Regions from separate parts of the Homo sapiens genome. Here region 2 is linked to region 1. Evidence: fine-mapped expression QTL. Tissue or cell type: whole blood. Region 1 holds a variant in brackets; the other region holds the start of a gene. All regions are shown on one strand. Distances are between the middles of the regions.

Region 1 (8,104 bases):
ACACCTGGCTTTCTCCTCCAGCTCACCTGTCCATTGAGGACCTGTGAGGACCCGTGAGCCCACAGGGGAATCAGCTGCCAGGAGCTTTGATTGAATCTCTCCATTTGGATCACTGGTGGAAAATGGCTACTTTTGGGGCTGGGGTAGAGGTGGTTTTAAGGACATTCTCAGAAAGCTGTGTTTGTATTCTGGTGAGTTAAAAGTGGAAGGCCCAGCTGGTGGCCTCTAAAGCATACTACCCAGTTGTTCCAGACAGAAAGAATAGTTGGTTCATGGGAGCAGCCTGCTGTGTTGGAGGAACCAGAGTGGAGGAGGCAGAGTGAGCGATGGAGAGAGTGGCAGAAGAGGAGGTCTGGGAGGTAATGAGAGGCCAAAACATACGGGGCCCTCTAGGCCACGTGATCTTTGGCTTTTTCTCCAAGCCACTGCAGGATTTTGAGAAGAGGAGTGTCATAACCTGACTGCTCTGATGTGGTGGTGAGAACAGGCTACCTAGGGCAGTGAGATAGAAGCAAGGAACCCAGTGAGGAAGCTTTGCAGTAATCCAGGGGACAGAGGATGGTGGCTCAGATCAAGATGGCAGGAATGCAGGTGGTGAGACGTGGTTGAATCCTGGATGTTTTTTAAAAGTAGCTAACAGATTTTCTGATGGACTGGCTGTGAGCCGTGAGATAAAAAGGGGAGTCAAGGATGATGCCAAGCGTTTTGGCTCTTGTGATGGGAAGGCTGGAGTTACCAATGGAGAGAAATAAGGCTGTGAGTGGAGAAGGTTTGGGGGAGGGACAGCAGAGCTCTGCATTGGACATACCAAGTTTGAGGTGTCTGCTAAACACATAAGGGAAGTATGACACAGGCTGCTGGACATAGGAGCCTGGAGCTCAGGGAAAGCTGGAGACAGGCTGGAGGCATCATGAGTAAGCACATGGTATTTAAATAAAGTCTTATGACTGGATGGGGTGATCAAGGGCTTAAGTACAGACAGTGAAGAGAAGAGGGTCAAGGACCCTGCCTGGGGATCCTCCAGCATCAAGAGGTCAGAGAGAAATGAGACCGAGAAGGAGTGACAAGTGAGCGGGGAGGAAAACCATGAGCAAATCAAGTCCTAGAAGCCAAGTGGACCAAGCGTTTCCAGGAAGAGGGAGTGATCAGCTGGGTCACATGCCACTGACAGCTGTGGCAAGATGAGGGTTAGGAACTGACTATTGGATTTAGCTATTGGAGAACCCTGGTAACCTTGACATTGGCAGCATTTGACTCTGAACCTCATGGAGCCCCACAGCTTGACAACTGACTGTCATTGAGGACACCCTTATTGTGAATTTTTGTCTTCTGGATTAAGTTGTAAACTTTGCAACATCGGATGACGAGTCAGCATATCCGCAGAGCATGGAGTCCTTGCTGGGCTGTGGGGCCTTACGAGGCCTGCTGACATCCACCTGAGGGCACCTACTACTGGGCATTGACCTAAAACAATTATCCTCATTCCTGGCTTACCTTGAACGCAGAATTTCAGTTCTTTGGGGTCAGTGACACCCTTCCTGCTTTCCCGGATCACAGCCCGGTTCTTCTTGTTTTCTCCCCAGAGATTGGTGCCTCCGTACATGCTGGGAATGTTGAGAATGGCAATGCCTTCCAGGAAGATGTTGCTCAGGTCCACCCCAACCCCATCACACTGGAGGACGGAGAGAAAAGGCCATCTGTTAGTGTCCTCAGTGTGTCACAACCCAAGGTGCTCTGTGTGTGTGCGTGCGTGTGTGTGTGTGTACTCTCTTAAAGGATGTGACAGGTCCTCAGCCACCACCCTGCCACTGTCAGAAGAGAAATCATGGGCAAAGTCGCTCAGACTTAATGCTTTGACTGCTGTGGTGAGATGACAGATCCAGTCCTGGTCAGCTCCGGGGAATACAGTACAGGCTCCAGGGTCATCTTTAGGTCTAGAAGTGCTTTAGGGCTGGTTCTTAAGTCAATTGTCAAACTGTTCTCCAGTCTAATCTCATTATCATCAATCTTGCCCCTTCCTAACCATTAGAAGATTTAGTGGAACTGAATTCAGAACCTAACAAATGACAGAAAATTCAGAACATAACAAATGACAGAAAATTTTCATATATATATATATTTTTTTGAGATGGAGTCTTGCTCTGTCACCCAGGCTGGAGTGCAGTGGCACAATCTCGGCTCACTGCAACCTCCACTTTCCGGTTTCAAGCGATTCTCCTGCCTCAGCCTCCCGAGTAGCTGGGATTACAGGCACCTGCCACCATGCCTGGCTAGTTTTTGTATTTTTAGTAGAGACGGGGTTTCACTACGTTGGCCAGGATGGTCTCGATCTCCTGACCTGTTGATCCGCCCGCCTCAGCCTCCCAAAGTGCTGGGATTACAGGAGTGAGCCACCACGCCTGGCCAGAAAATTTTCATTTTGCCCCCTCCTATTTTATCTCTCTGTGAGAAGCACAAGACTTTAAGCTTTGGAAGGCTTTCAGAATCTGCCTGTCTCCTGTATCTGTATCATAAATGCAATTTTGGCATATGTGTTTGCTGAAGGAGCAGAGTTTCTTTATCCAATCTCCACAACTTGCAGTCCCCACCAGGTACAAAAAGCCAGAAGGCTTGAATTTTCATCTCACATGTCTATAAAGTCAGCCCACTTTGGCATCGTGCTTACCAACACAGCAAGAAATATCAGCTCTGATCCTTGTTCCTCAGGATAGTAGGTAGTTTATTTCACTTACAGAAGCAAACACTGGACCCAGAGACTTGAGCTAAGTTATCCAAGCTTGCACAGCTAATAAATAACAGAGCAGGGATTCAAAGTTGGGGGATTTGAGTACAAAGTACATGGTCTTTATGTTGTTTATTGGGAGAAAGAAAAAATCAAAGGCATACAATAAAAACCCACTATCTCTGAGGTTACGTACAAACCCAAACTTCCAGAGACTTATCAACAGAGCAGGACTAGAAGACTTGTTGCCATTCATAGTGACTCACCTCCTGATTTCTTTGCAGTTCTTACATTATGTTATCTTGTTTCCCCAACTACAAGATGGCATACAGTGAGCAACTCTGGTAACTGCGAACTCATTTTTTCACTGGGAAGTTCTGATAATTTGAGAGGTCTCTTTA[T/C]GTTGATCTGGATTCTCTCTCACTCTTGTTTCCACCAGTTGGTCCTGTTCTCCCTTCTGAACCCATACAGAATGACCCTCCTTCCTCCTCCATAGGCCACCCCCTAGATAGATGATGATGATGATGAAGATCACCATTGTGCACATGTATTCAGCACTGCCATCTACCACACACAATTTTATACACATCTCATTTATTATCTTCCTAATAATCCTATAAGTTAGTTACTATGACTATCCTCTTTTTACACTGGGGAAACTGAGGCACAGAGGAGGTTAAGTAACTTGCCCAAAGTTCACAACTTACAAGTGGAAGTACACAGATTTAAGGGCAGGTAGTCAGAGCCCAAGTTTTTTATTTCTCCTCCCTCTCACACTACTACCAGGTTGTGCCACCTCTGGACTGTCAACTCTCTTCATCTTCTCCCATGAGACTTGGTTTTCAGATCTTTTCCCATCCCGGCTTCCCTGTTTTGCACACACTCTAGTTTGTTACCCTGCTATTTGGCAAGACCCCCAACATTGAAAACTACATCAACGACGGGATCTAATGGGGGCAGGTGGCTACCACACCAGTACTTCTTGTGGCTGAAATTTTATGATACTATCATGCCCCAGAAATGAGATGACGTGCAAAGCTCATGTAAGAGTTCAGCACGTTATCCATTATCATTATCCTTATCCTTATTATCCAATTGATAAAGATTGCACTGGCCATTTTGTTAGTGGCTAGATGACAACATCACTTCAGCTTAAATGGGTGGTCATCTTCATTGCCCAGATCATCTCATGATCTATTTTTCATCCAGTTCTTCGCCATTCTGAACCTGTGTAGATTTTAAAAAATAACATAGACATAAAACTTTACATTTATGTTAATTAATTTCATCTGGCTCTCAGCCCGTGTTTCCTCTAGTCTACCCAGCTTACTTCCAATCTTCATTCTGTGACCTTTTGTCATCGCGTTCCCATCATTTGGGGATTAAGTCATTAATATGTGCGCATAAAAGGAAAAAACAGTGACCGAGCACTCTCCTTGGTCAGTTTAACACCAAACATTATGCGTTAACATCCTTTGGGGTATGGCTGCTCTATCGGAGCTGCATCTTCTGGACTGGACTGTCACCCAGCCTACTTTTTGTTATTAGACAGATGATGGAATTTAGAGATGAGAGGCACATAAGGGAAGATGCCTCTCATCTTTCATGCCTCATCTTTCATAAATGAGCCCCAGTGAGGTTAAGAAACTTCTCTGTGGTCATCTGACTTATTAGTGGTGGAGCTAGATATGTATCCAGGTCTCCAGACCTCAATCCTGCGTTCTTTCCATGAAAACATAAAACATTGTGCCGAGATCAAACAGCATTTCCTAAGTGACCACCCTACAACCTCTATTAGAAAAGCAATAAGATAACTCAACTAAGTCACCAATATCTGTGTGCAAAGCCTAAATACTTTGTTAATAATCTATTCTAGAATCTTGCCAGGGATCAGAATAAAGTGTATCAGTCTGTGGTTTCCAAAATGTACCCTATTCTTATTTTTTGAACACTGGAGCCATATTTGTCTGCCTCTTATTGGCTAGAACCTACTCTGTTTTCTGGATTTGTCAAAGTGGCCCCTGAATGACACCTACAGGCTTGTCCAGCAACTTGGATTCAAATGTGTGTGTGTGTTTCAAAGCCAGTTAGTTCTCCATTGATTTACCTTGGGTTCTAGTATCCACCTTTGGCATCTTTTCTTCCATTTTTAGTTTAAGGCCACTCTCTTTGGAAAAGATGAAAACTCTTCCAGAATGGCACAGTCCTGTTGAGCTATGCTTTCTATGTTCTTTTTCACTTCAAACGTTGTCTAGCATTCAGCTGGGCCTTCAGTTAGCCTGAAGCCAGGCTCACAGGTCTGAATTGCTTTTGTGTATTCCTACCTGGTTGCATGCCCAGGCTCTGCCTTTGCGTGTATGTGTACAGTTTCCTGAAAGCATAGGCTCAACCAACACTCTCTGTTGCTGTCACATTGATTGAAAAACAAAAACTGACTCCTTTTTCTTTTCTTTTCAGTGTGATTCATGACTTCTTAGAAACTTATTTTGGAATGTCTTCTACCCTCCTATCCTTCATACACATATTCCTAATTAGAGATTTAGGCTAGAGTCCCATTGGATCACACTTTCTTTTTTCTTCCTTTATTTATTTTTTGAGACAGAGTTTCGCTCTTGTCGCCCAGGCTGGAGTGCGGTAGTGTGATCTTGGCTCACTGCAACCTCTGCCTCCCGGGTTCAAGTCATTCTCCTGCCTTGGACTCCTGAAGTAGCTGGGATTACAGGTGCCTGTCACCACGCCCAGCTAATTTTTTTTCTATTTTTAGTTGAGATGGGGTTTTACCATGTTGGCCAGCCGGGTCTTGAACTGACCTCAGGTGATCCACCTGCCTTGACCTCCGGAAGTGCTGGGATCACAGGGGTGAGCCACCGGGCCTGGCCCACATTTTCTTTTATCCTTATCACCCTCTAGATGAAGCAGCCACTTCCCCATCTTGGCTGTAGTTGCTTCTACATCATCTCAATTTATTCACTGTTGGTCAAAACATCCCTTTCCCTTCTGAGCAGTAATAAGAATAATATTAGCAACTCATGCTTGGTGAGAGCTTTCTAGGGCACTGTGCTGGGATTCACCCATAGTATCTCTTGCGATCTTCACATGAACATGATGAGGGAGGCAGCATTGCTACCCCCAACTGACAGGGCCTCTTAGGGGTTAAGATGCTTGCTCAAGGCTCCACAGCTTCCTACTCTACAAGATGGCAGAGCCAGGATGCAAACCTAGGAAGGCAGATGCCAGATCCTACGCTGGAGATGAGTCAGTGAGGCAAATCGGGATTTTTGCTGATGCTAGGCTTATAGCAAAATTAAACTTCCAGCTGTTTGAATAATTGAGATCTCCCACTACTGCTCTATCTTATAGAGTGCTTAGAGCAATGCCTGGCACATCAATGTTGGATATTAATATTATTATATCTTGCCTCCGCACCAGGTTTGTTTTTTAAAAAAGTACATCACCAGCACAGTCCTTGACAAATAGTATTCCACAAAGTCACCTTTCTTCCGTACTACAGTTTTAACTGTACCCTGTCCCCTCCATCTCTATCCATAGCCAGCTAAGTGTGTTTGCTATTAACTTGGTAAACGTTTACCTCTTCCTGGAAGAGCAGGCAATCCTCACTCTGCTTTCTAGGTTGTCCCCTTCCCCTATTACCGCAGTGGGTCCCATGTAGATAGGGCAAGTAGAGGAGATGGGAGAAGCCTGGGGTCTGCTGGACGCTGATGTCCTCCCTCCCTCTTGGAATGCACCTACTTGGAAAGTGAGAGCCAATGTAGTGTCTTGGAAAGAACGTGCCTGCCTGGGCTTGAAGGCAGAGAGACATGGGTTTAAATCTTGGCTCTGTCACTTGCCAGCGGTGTGATTCCAGGTTGTTTCCTTACCCCTCTGAGGTTTAATTTGTCATCTGTAAAATGGAGGATAGGGGAATAACATCTGCCTTAAGGGGTGGGTTGATGGGTGTCTGGAATGCAGTAGCACTGTGTAACTGTCTGCGTTATCATCACAGGTTCCCCAACCTCTGTGCCATGAGGCATTTATCTTCCTGAATTCACTCCCCCTACCTGAGGCTTTGCTGGAGGCATCTTAACGGCCTCTTGGCCCGACCCAGGCTGGTAAGAGCCTTGGCAAGCGCACGCCTGCGTGCCCATTCTCCAGAGTTCCTGGCCTCGCGATCGTGCACTGATTTCCTTCAGAACCCCAGGCCCGCTCTGGACGTGGAAGGCAGCCGTGCCGTCTGGGAAAGTGGAGCCGAGCCCGGGACGCTGTCGGCCTAAATGGAACGCCGGCCCCGGGGCCCGCTCCCCGGCGGGTTCCCGAGCTAAATCCTCCAACTGTTCCATGACGTCATCGGGCCCCCTCCCCCTGCTCCGGCCCGCGCGGCCCCAGCGTGGCGCTAAGGAGTGTGGCGGTCCCCGCGCGCACCGTGGGCCATCCCTAACCCAGGACCTGGCTAGCAGGCTGCCCTCCGAGCCGAGGCTGCGCTGGGCGGAACCAGGGATTTATAGCCCGGAGTGGGGCTGAAACAGAGCTCCTGGCCCGAGCAGAGAGCGTGCACACGCATGAAATCGTGCTCCTGGGTGCGCCGGCGGCCAGGTGCCCGATGTCGGTCTTGGAAGCAGCGCCGGAGTCCGTCTGAACCCAGGCCCGGGAGGCCAGAGGCTGCCGGCCACGTTCAACTGTGTCCCCCTTGGGAAGACAATCCCCCCAGTTCTGGTTTCTTCCTGAGCCACGGGTGGTTGGTTGGTTTGGTGGAAGGCAGGTGCACAGGTAACAGAGACAAGGTTAGGAGGCAAAGCACATTTATGTGCAAATGAGACGCGCTAGGGAACTTGTAATCCTCTGCACCCCCGCCCTTGATGTCTCGATCCCTACAATCACAGAATTCTAGGCAGAGGCCGCCGACTTCTCCGCCCTCGCCAAGAGGGACCCGGAGCACCGAAGCTTCCCAGCCGGTGCCGGCGTTTCCGCGCCCTCCTTCTCTCCTGCGCCGTGACCTCAAAAGGGCGGCGGGCGGGGGCCCCTCCACTCCAGCCCTGTCGATCCTATTTCTGAAGGGCCTTAGGGAAGGAGATTCCACAATTTATTTGATGACCTGTTTCAGTTTTTAGCAACTAGGAAATTCCCCCTTCTTCTAACCTCGATTCACCGTGCCACAGATTTGGTTTGGACGCAGACGGTTCTGTTTATAGGCCTGCCACTCGGCTTTGTCTGCTCTCAGGAATGACCTCCACCAGGCCAGATCGGAGGTGGAAGCCAGGACTCGGTAGCTCCGGGAGGCATGTGTCCCCTTTCTGCTGGGAATTTTCTCTTTCTTGGGTACCCTGTCACTGAGTTATTGTCCCTCCCATCTTCCACGACTCTTTCTTGGTCTTTCTTTAAAAAAAA
Region 2 (8,104 bases), 170 kb after region 1:
ATAAAGTGACATCAGCTCTCACTATGGTTGGGTGTGGAATTCTGATACTTGGTACAAATAAACAACTCTTTGAATATGGCCAGTATGTGAGGAAGCTGTTGCTGATGGGTTAAGCTTGCTGAACCTGGCTGTGATCATGATGCACGTTCACAAGAGTGAATGTTGTTATAATGACTTGTATGGAGAAGTGGGACATTATACACATTTGTATATTTTACATGATGGTTTGATTTGTTCAAAGTTAGTATGTGACATTTAGCTAGAGAATTCTGCAGCTGATACTTGCTCACATAAAAATAGGTATAGCTTTATGTTGTATGGTTTCCATAATCCCTCCCGAGTGTATAAAGCAAGGTGATATGTGTGATTCCTTCTTCCATGAGACTGAAGAATGCTCGTGTGATGTGGCTTGGTCGTGTGAGGCCTTGGCCTATTTGGATTCCTAAAGGTCATCTGCTTGAACTATGGCCGAGTTGTTTCTGGTGAATGGAATCCTAAATTAGTGTACCCTTTTTGAAAAGTGGCTTCTCATATATACTGTGAGCCTTAAAACATTCATGCCCTTTGGCCTGGTGATCTATTTCTAGGCATCTATCCAAAGGAAGTAATGGGAAGTGTGTGCAGTAAAGACTTTGCCCAGAGTTATTTGTAGTTGCTAAAGACAGGAAGCAACTTAAATAACTAACAGTGTAATAATATGCAGCCAGGAAAACAATGTTCATGAAGGTCTTTTGCTACAACACTAATTCAGAAAAAAGCAGAGAACCAATAGCTACAGGGGCTCAGCAACCATACTTTTGAGTCAGACAGCCTGGGTTTGAATCTTGATTCTGCCACATACTAGCTATGTAACTTGGGCAAGTCACCTGAAGTCTTAGAACCCTAGAAAAATGCAACCCTAGAAAAATGGGATTGATAGTAATAACACCTCAGAGGGACTCCTGAGGATTAAAGGATATAATGAATATAAAATTTAACACCATGCAAAGTATACTTATTAGGCACCCAATAAATGCTGGCTCTCTATGGATTGTATAATTTCGAGGCATAAAAACAGATGGAAAGGAAATATGCCAGTATATTAACAGTGTGGGATGGGAGTGGTAGGATCATGGGTGATTGATTTGTTCTTTGCATACTTTTCAACTTCCCAATTTTTAGGCAATGAACATGAATTACTTTTATACTAAAAGAGTACATTATAATGATGTAATACAATAAGATATACATTTTAAAAGTTTTAAAGTTTTACCACAAAGAAAAGGTACTTCCCCGCCCTTTTCCCCCTTCTCTTCCAGGGGAGGAGATGGGGCCAGCATCCACCAACTCCCATCAGTAGGAGAGGGGAGAGTTGCTGGCTTCTGGGTTCTTTCCTCGCAGAGGCTCACACATGCACAGCCTGGGCCTCTGGGAGTGTCCGGGTTGGAGGGATCCTCACCATCTGTTGATGGTGTTGTGTGGGGAGTTGGAGCAGTTGGGGGAGCTGGAACAGATGATCTTAGTAGTTACTCCCATCTCTGAGAGTCTAGATTTCAAGACACGCTGATGTTTGTCGTTTTCTCCCCATGTCTCGGTTGATCTGAACCAACCACTCCATAAAATTCTAAGGTAGGAAAGACTCATCTACTAGCTTCCCACCCTAAAGCCCCTCCCAGAAAAATACCTGTAGTAATGCCTATAGTGCTGGGTGTAAACGTTAAGGGTGATTGGCAAAAAAGACATAGATCAGGAGTACGACCGGGAAGTTGGCTTAGTTGCAGCCGTTTTATTTAAGGAGTATAATTCATATTCGGAATGGAATCTCCAGCAAATGTAGTCTTTTAATATGACAAACAGTTAAGTACCTTCCCATGTTAGACACATGCCTGGAATGAGAGTGAGAGGGACATAAAATATAAAGGGGTGTGTGTCTGTGCCTGGGTTCATGACCAAACCTCGACATTTGCCCTCTATGATCTAATTTCCTTCATTGACAACCAGGGTGCCCTGTGTGCCAGCAAGTGGCTCTGCCAGCTGTATTTTACAGACAGAGAATCCCAAGCACCAAAATAACAAAGTTGATTCCCCCATCCAGACCAGAGGGGTCGTTTCCAGTCCTGTGTCCTGACCACTGTCTCTCATCATGACCCCTGGTGTTCACCTCCAGATCCAAAGTGTCGTCGCCAAGCCCCCAAAATAAAGGAATGACAAACAGCCCTCCCAGGCCCTCCTCCCCACAGAGAGGTCATCGTATGCTAATGAAGTCCGAGGAGGCAGCGGCGCAGCGCGGGAGAGCGCGCCCACGGGTTCACAGCGCTCCCGGGCACCACTGCGGCGCAGCCACAGATCGCTTCGCGCTGCAGCAGACGCTCCCGCCGCGGGGGGCGACTGGGGGAGGGGTCTCGACCGCCACCCTGAGTTCCGCAGCTCATCCCTCCCATCTGGGAGGTGGTTCTAGCTCTAGTCCCAAGCTTTCCACTGCAGTGATGGTGGGGATGGGGGCAGCACGTCAAATCACCTGTAGGGCTTTTTAGAACTCCACAGCCCCCTCCCCTAATTCTATTCCACTAGTTCAAACGAAGAAAATCTCAGACTAGGCAAGGGGAGGTGGACCGGTGGAGTCTGCGAAAGCACCACAGGTGACTCCGGGTACGCACTCCTCAGGACACAAGCACACACACGGACACATCTTGTGACTCTGAGACTACACAGATCAACCTCAGATTCGACCCTTCCCTCCTTTATTCTCTGAGGTGTCCGTGTTCGCTTCAGCTTCCCTTTAAGTCGCCCTGCGCAGGGGCTTTGTGGAGTGCCCCCAAAGTCCTAGAACCCCGCGGGACGGTCGGAGGCTTTGGCGGCCAGACATTAGGAAAAGCATCTCCTGCTTCTCGGACTGCCTGGAGCGCGAACTGGATATCAAGGAGCCAAGGTTAAGTCCAGAAGAAGAAGGAAATCCGACCAGTTGCTTTAGCAAACTGCCTGGAGCAAGGCCGCCTCCCACCCGCACAGCTTTGAGGCTTGAGGGGGCCTCTCAGTCGCAGAGAGAGCCGAGCCCCACCCTGTGCGTTCCCCAAGCCTGCACCCCTCGAGCGGGGCATCCCTTCCTGCAGGGCTTTGTGGCAGGTGGAACTGTCGGGGTGGGCGCCGTGGCTTTGGCTGCAGCCCCTTCCCTGGCCGCGGGACCGGCTCCCGCTTTGCCCTCCTTTACCAAGTTGCTGCACCGGGTGCTCCCTGAGCCGGGGACCCCCTCCGCCGCGCCGGCCGCCGTCTTACCTCACCAGGCAACACTTGGTTGCGCGGTGGCCCGGGGCGCTCCTTCTTCGCGGTTTATTCCCTTACTTGGGAGGAAAGAGGAACCGAGAGACAGAAGGGGGACCGAAGCTGGCCTCTGGGCGTCTTCCCGCCTGCGCAGCCCTCTCGGGGGAGGGGGATGCAGCCCCAGTGGGTGCCGCGGAGACCAGGCTGCCAGGCTGTGGTTGGTAGCGCCGGGGTCTTCACCCTGTGCTCGGAGTTCAGCAGCTCCAAAGCTGTCTATCTCCGTGGCCCGCTACTACGGCACTGCGGCTCTGTGCCCTGCCCCTCGCAGCCTGGCAAGTCCAGCTGCCACTCTCACTGCGGAGCCCTGCCCCCGGGCGCAGAGCCCGCCCCCGCCACACACACCGGCGCGCGCGCGTACACACACGGCACACACAGACACGCGCTTCCACACATGCACACGCGTGCGCACACACGAATGTGGATCCGCTCGATGGGAACCTGACCCCCTTTGGTGCAACTAGGGCGCGGGCATCATTAGGACGCTTTTTACTGACAGGGCTTCGGTTTGGGAGGAGGAGTTACAGGCTTAGGAGTGTGGAGAGGATGCAACAGTGGTGGGTACCAGAGGGCCCCTGACCCCGGAGGCAAAGGACAACTGTTTGACAAATAAATACCGACTGGGCGTTTCCTTTTCTCAACTCTGGTCAAGGCTACCGTAATATCCCGACCAAATCGAAGAAAAAATAAAAATACAAAATCAACAAGTTCTCTTTGTTTCCCAGGAACTCAGTATCTCTAGGATCCAAATCACTAGCCCTGTCCAGAGGGTCATTTCTGACAACCTTGACTTCGGTGGCAGTGGATTGGTGGCAGTTCAACTCGAAAAGGTTTTCCCCTCGTAGCCTGGTGGAGACTGGCACAGCCTGCCTGAGCTGGACTCTGTTGGATGGGTCGGGTCTCTGGGTGTGTTTAATTCCCATTCTCCTTTGCTTTTAGGTGACCTTGGACTGTATTCCTGCAGAATAAATAGATCTCTTCTTTTTTTAAAATGTAGAAGAGCACAGAAAAGACGCTGGGGTGAGGGGTCGGGGGGAATAGGGGAGCTACATTAGCCAAGGCACTATGACTTGTTGCTTCTCTTTCCATGACGTGCATGTCCACGTGAGGGGGTGATGGTGGTGGTGACACTATTTCAGGCATGTCACACAGCAAGATGACTGCTGTCCATTTCACACCACATTTAGAGTCATTAGGAGTTTAGACTGTCATCTTTAAAATATGTGGAGTTTACTCATTTCCACAGCCGAGAATTCTTTTCTGCCAGTGGGCAGTGAAGGTCCCCGGGCCAGCACTGCAGCCAAGAAAAGCTTTCCGCAGAGTGTGGAGGCGCCGAGGGGCTCTGGGTGTCTGTGCATTTGGGGAAGAAGCCTCAAACACGAATGTCAAACAGCCCTGAGGACCCTGTTGGGTGGTGTCCATACTAGGCTATCTGCAGGCAGGCTGGTGAGACAGATGAGAAACAGAGCTGAGAGATCTCCTTAAGATTCCACACAGTGATGAAGACAGAGCTGATACCAGAACCCCGTGTTTGCGACTCCTCTTATCCTCTGGGTCTTATCCATTCTATCACCCTGGGTGGCTTCTCAAAGTTTCCTTCAGCTAGGCTGAAATAATCTTGGTGAGGGTGCCTTCAAAGTTCTTCCTTGTCCTTTCTTTTTTTCCTCTTCAGTCACTGACTCATTCATTTTACAGCTATTTATTAAACTCCTACTCTGTCTTCAGGTGCTTCCCCGTAACTCCAGTCCTGGGCCTTACTTGGGAGGAAAGAAGAACTGAGAGACAGAAAGGGCTTAGAACTGTCCTCATCCCTGGAAGAGAGGAGCCCTGAGCACAGGTTTCTGGTATATATTTTCACTCTGCTAGGTTGCATGGATGTGGAAGACACAATCCTTGCTTTTTTTGACTGCATGCTCAATGGAGGAAAATGCACATACATGTCACAAGAAAAACATTCTGGCTGTCTATTCTTGACTCCTTCTAAAGAAGGCTAAACTGAAGGAGACCCTGTGTTTGGCTGAGCATCATAATGGACTTGGGGTACATGTTTGCAAATAGGTGTTAGGACAACATTGAGTTGCTCTGCCTATTAGGACAGGAAGGAAATAAATTGAATGGAACAAATGAAGAAGACATGCAGAGACTGAGTGTGGAGCCTTAGCTTCGTTGAGAGCACATTGGGGAAGGGTAACGAGAGGGGAGGAGCTCTGAGGACAGGGTTGCCAAGCAACTTGCCTGAGAACAGGCAACAGGGTTGCCAAGTTGTCCAGGGATTTGGACAGGGGAGATGCTTGCAAAGATTGGTAAGTAGTTTGCTGTGGGGTGGGCTATGAAAGCCCCCGGTCCTATGAAAGAAATCATTTGTAAAGTCAATATTGTTCATCGGTTTGCTTGCAAATGGATTCCTTTAGGATCAGGATGGAGCCAAATGATGCATCTGAGTTGCTGCAGAAGGAGTTCAGAGAAGGCTGTGTGGACTGAGTTACATGCTAATAACATGGAGGAAAAGGGTGGTAGTAGAGGCTGAAGCAATGTGGAAGGCAAAGAGGGATGGGGCGGGAAGAAGCACCAAGAACAATTAGTGCTAATGGAGGCATCATGGAGGAGGTAGGGTTTGCGATCGGATTTTAAAGGGGAATAGAGATCTCACTTAAAGATCAACAGGACAAGGGCAATCTAGGCTGGGAGAAAGCAAAAGCAGAGACGTAGGACAATTCATGGTGAGTTCTGGGTCTTCCCAGCACAAGAAAAGAAGGCTGGGACAGTATTGTGGGAGTCTCCAAATGCTCTTCTGGGAGCATAGACTTGGGTTCCACAGTGAGGAGCTATGGCAGGTGTGGATTTTTTGTTGTTTGTTTTTGATGGGAAATGAGCTGGGAAGCAAGCTGGGAAGTATCTGATGCCAGCTTTCCCAAGGTAGGCCTTCCCCATCAGAATGGAGCACTGTGGGGAGGGAGTCCTTGTTGCTGCTCTCACGAAGAGCCAGAGCCCAGGTGGCTTATGTGGCTTGCTGCAGAGGGCACCCAGCTAAGGGGCTGAAATCCAACTCATGCCCCACTTGCCCAGCCACACAACCTGTTAGGGTTATGTCTGCCTGGAGGGAGGGATGCCTTTTCTCTAATTTGCATGGGCTGACAGAGGCCCTGCAACTGAGCTCTTTATTTGAAAAGGCTGAAGCTACGGTGAAACAAGTGAGGATTTATTGGGCATTTGCTGTATGTGCAAACATAAGGTAAAGCAGAAAGAGTCTTGAGGTCAGGACTATCTGTGAGTCTGAGCATGTCTCTGCTCTGTGGTGACACCCTGAGACTTACTGTAGGGTACAGAGGAGGAAGCTTAGTGCCTCTCCTCAAAGATTTTGCAATCCATGTCAGTTATAAAACAAACGCTCCACTGGTTAAGAAACAGTGAACGACAGTATGGAATCAAGTGCCAAATTGCACAGGGCAGATTCTCAGGGCTTGAGAAAGGAGACCTCCTCTGGGCTGAAAGAGTCAAGGCAGGCTTCATGGAGGAGGAGGGCTGGGTTTGGCAGTGGAGCATGTGTATGTTGGTTCTCAGCCAGAGAAAAGACCTGCGAACAAAAAGCCAGAGGAAACGAAGCTGGGGGCTTCTAAGCATGGATTTTTAGCCGCCACAGCCACCCTAATGCCATTCCCAATTGTAGCCCAAGCGCTGTGATGAGTCACCCTTGTTTCTGAGAGACGGGGCATTTTTGGATGTTTAACTGGTTCAACACTTTACATTCCCTGAGACTTCAATGTTGGCAGCTCACACTCACCATGTTGCTCTGGGAACACATCATCCAAGCCAGCAGCTGATGCCTGATCTCCACTGCCAAGGCAAAGCGAGGGCTGAGTCAGGTACCTGTGTCTGGAAATTTTTAGTCCCACTGTCTCTGACAAGCTGAGCGAACAGCACTTGACAGTTGGAGCACAGCTGAGTTCAGGGTCACCAACCGCAAGGTGGGCCGGGGGGGTTCTGCTCGCCTTCTTAGGCCTCACTTTTCCCATGTACAGAACACAAAGGATTATACCAGATTATCTCCAAGCTGTCTTCCACCTAATATTTTATGATCTCATAATTAATGGAATCTTTCCATGTTATCAAGCAATGACAGGATGGGAACAGATACTAGCCAAGTCCGAACCTTAACTTTCCTCTTGGTTTTGACTGTGAAGGCTGTGGTGGAGTGAGACTGTGGGTTGGAAACAGGAGAACCAGGAGCTCCTGGTCACAGTTTTGCCATGAATGGGATTTGGGATCCAGCCCTGGGAATGTAGGCAGGAGATTCCCTCATTTTAGTTTTCTTAGAAAATAAGGAGGCTGGAAATGGTCCCTACAACCCTTTCTGGCACTGATACTCTGTTAAGTACTAGCAACTGAACAACTTTTAAGTACCGCCCCCTTGCCTGGGTGGGGCCCTCCACAAGGCAAGCTGGGAAAATTCTCACAATATCAACTGATAAGCTTGAAGGAAAGCACAAAGGAGAAGCCATGGGGTTCAGAATAATAAATAGATAATTTAGAATTAGATGGAGTCAAAAGAGCTAATCTGAGTCTCTAAGCTCCAATTTCCTCTTCTGCAAAGTGGGGATAGTAATACATGCATCTCAAGGTAATGATTAAATGAAGAAGCTTATTTGAAAGTGTTTTAGAAGTGCTATGCAAAAATGTAAAATACAGTTATTGAAGATAGTCTGTTCCCTTAAGGTAGTCTATTTTTTAAAGCCTAGTTATTATACTACTTGCTAATGTGTCTGCTTCCTAAGAAACAGCAATTCAGGTCAGCAACTCTTTATACACCACA

What was found. PIP is the estimated chance that this variant, and not a neighbour inherited with it, causes the effect.
Region 2: DGKG starts here. The variant in region 1 is fine-mapped to the expression of DGKG in whole blood (TOPMed, PIP above 0.99).

Annotation. Positions count from the first base shown.
Region 1 is chr3:186,186,708-186,194,811 of GRCh38, forward strand. DGKG (diacylglycerol kinase gamma) reads right to left here. Exons shown (of 25, transcript NM_001346.3): 22 at 1,495-1,672. Among named protein-coding and RNA genes, the nearest start is that of ETV5, 82 kb to the left of the region's middle. RefSeq lists an enhancer at 7,403-8,104. The variant T/C (reference allele first, on the strand shown) is at 3,124.
Region 2 is chr3:186,358,694-186,366,797 of GRCh38, forward strand. It overlaps DGKG (diacylglycerol kinase gamma), which reads right to left and starts at 3,541. Exons shown (of 25, transcript NM_001346.3): 1 at 3,253-3,541. RefSeq lists an enhancer at 2,309-2,826 and a silencer at 3,611-3,700.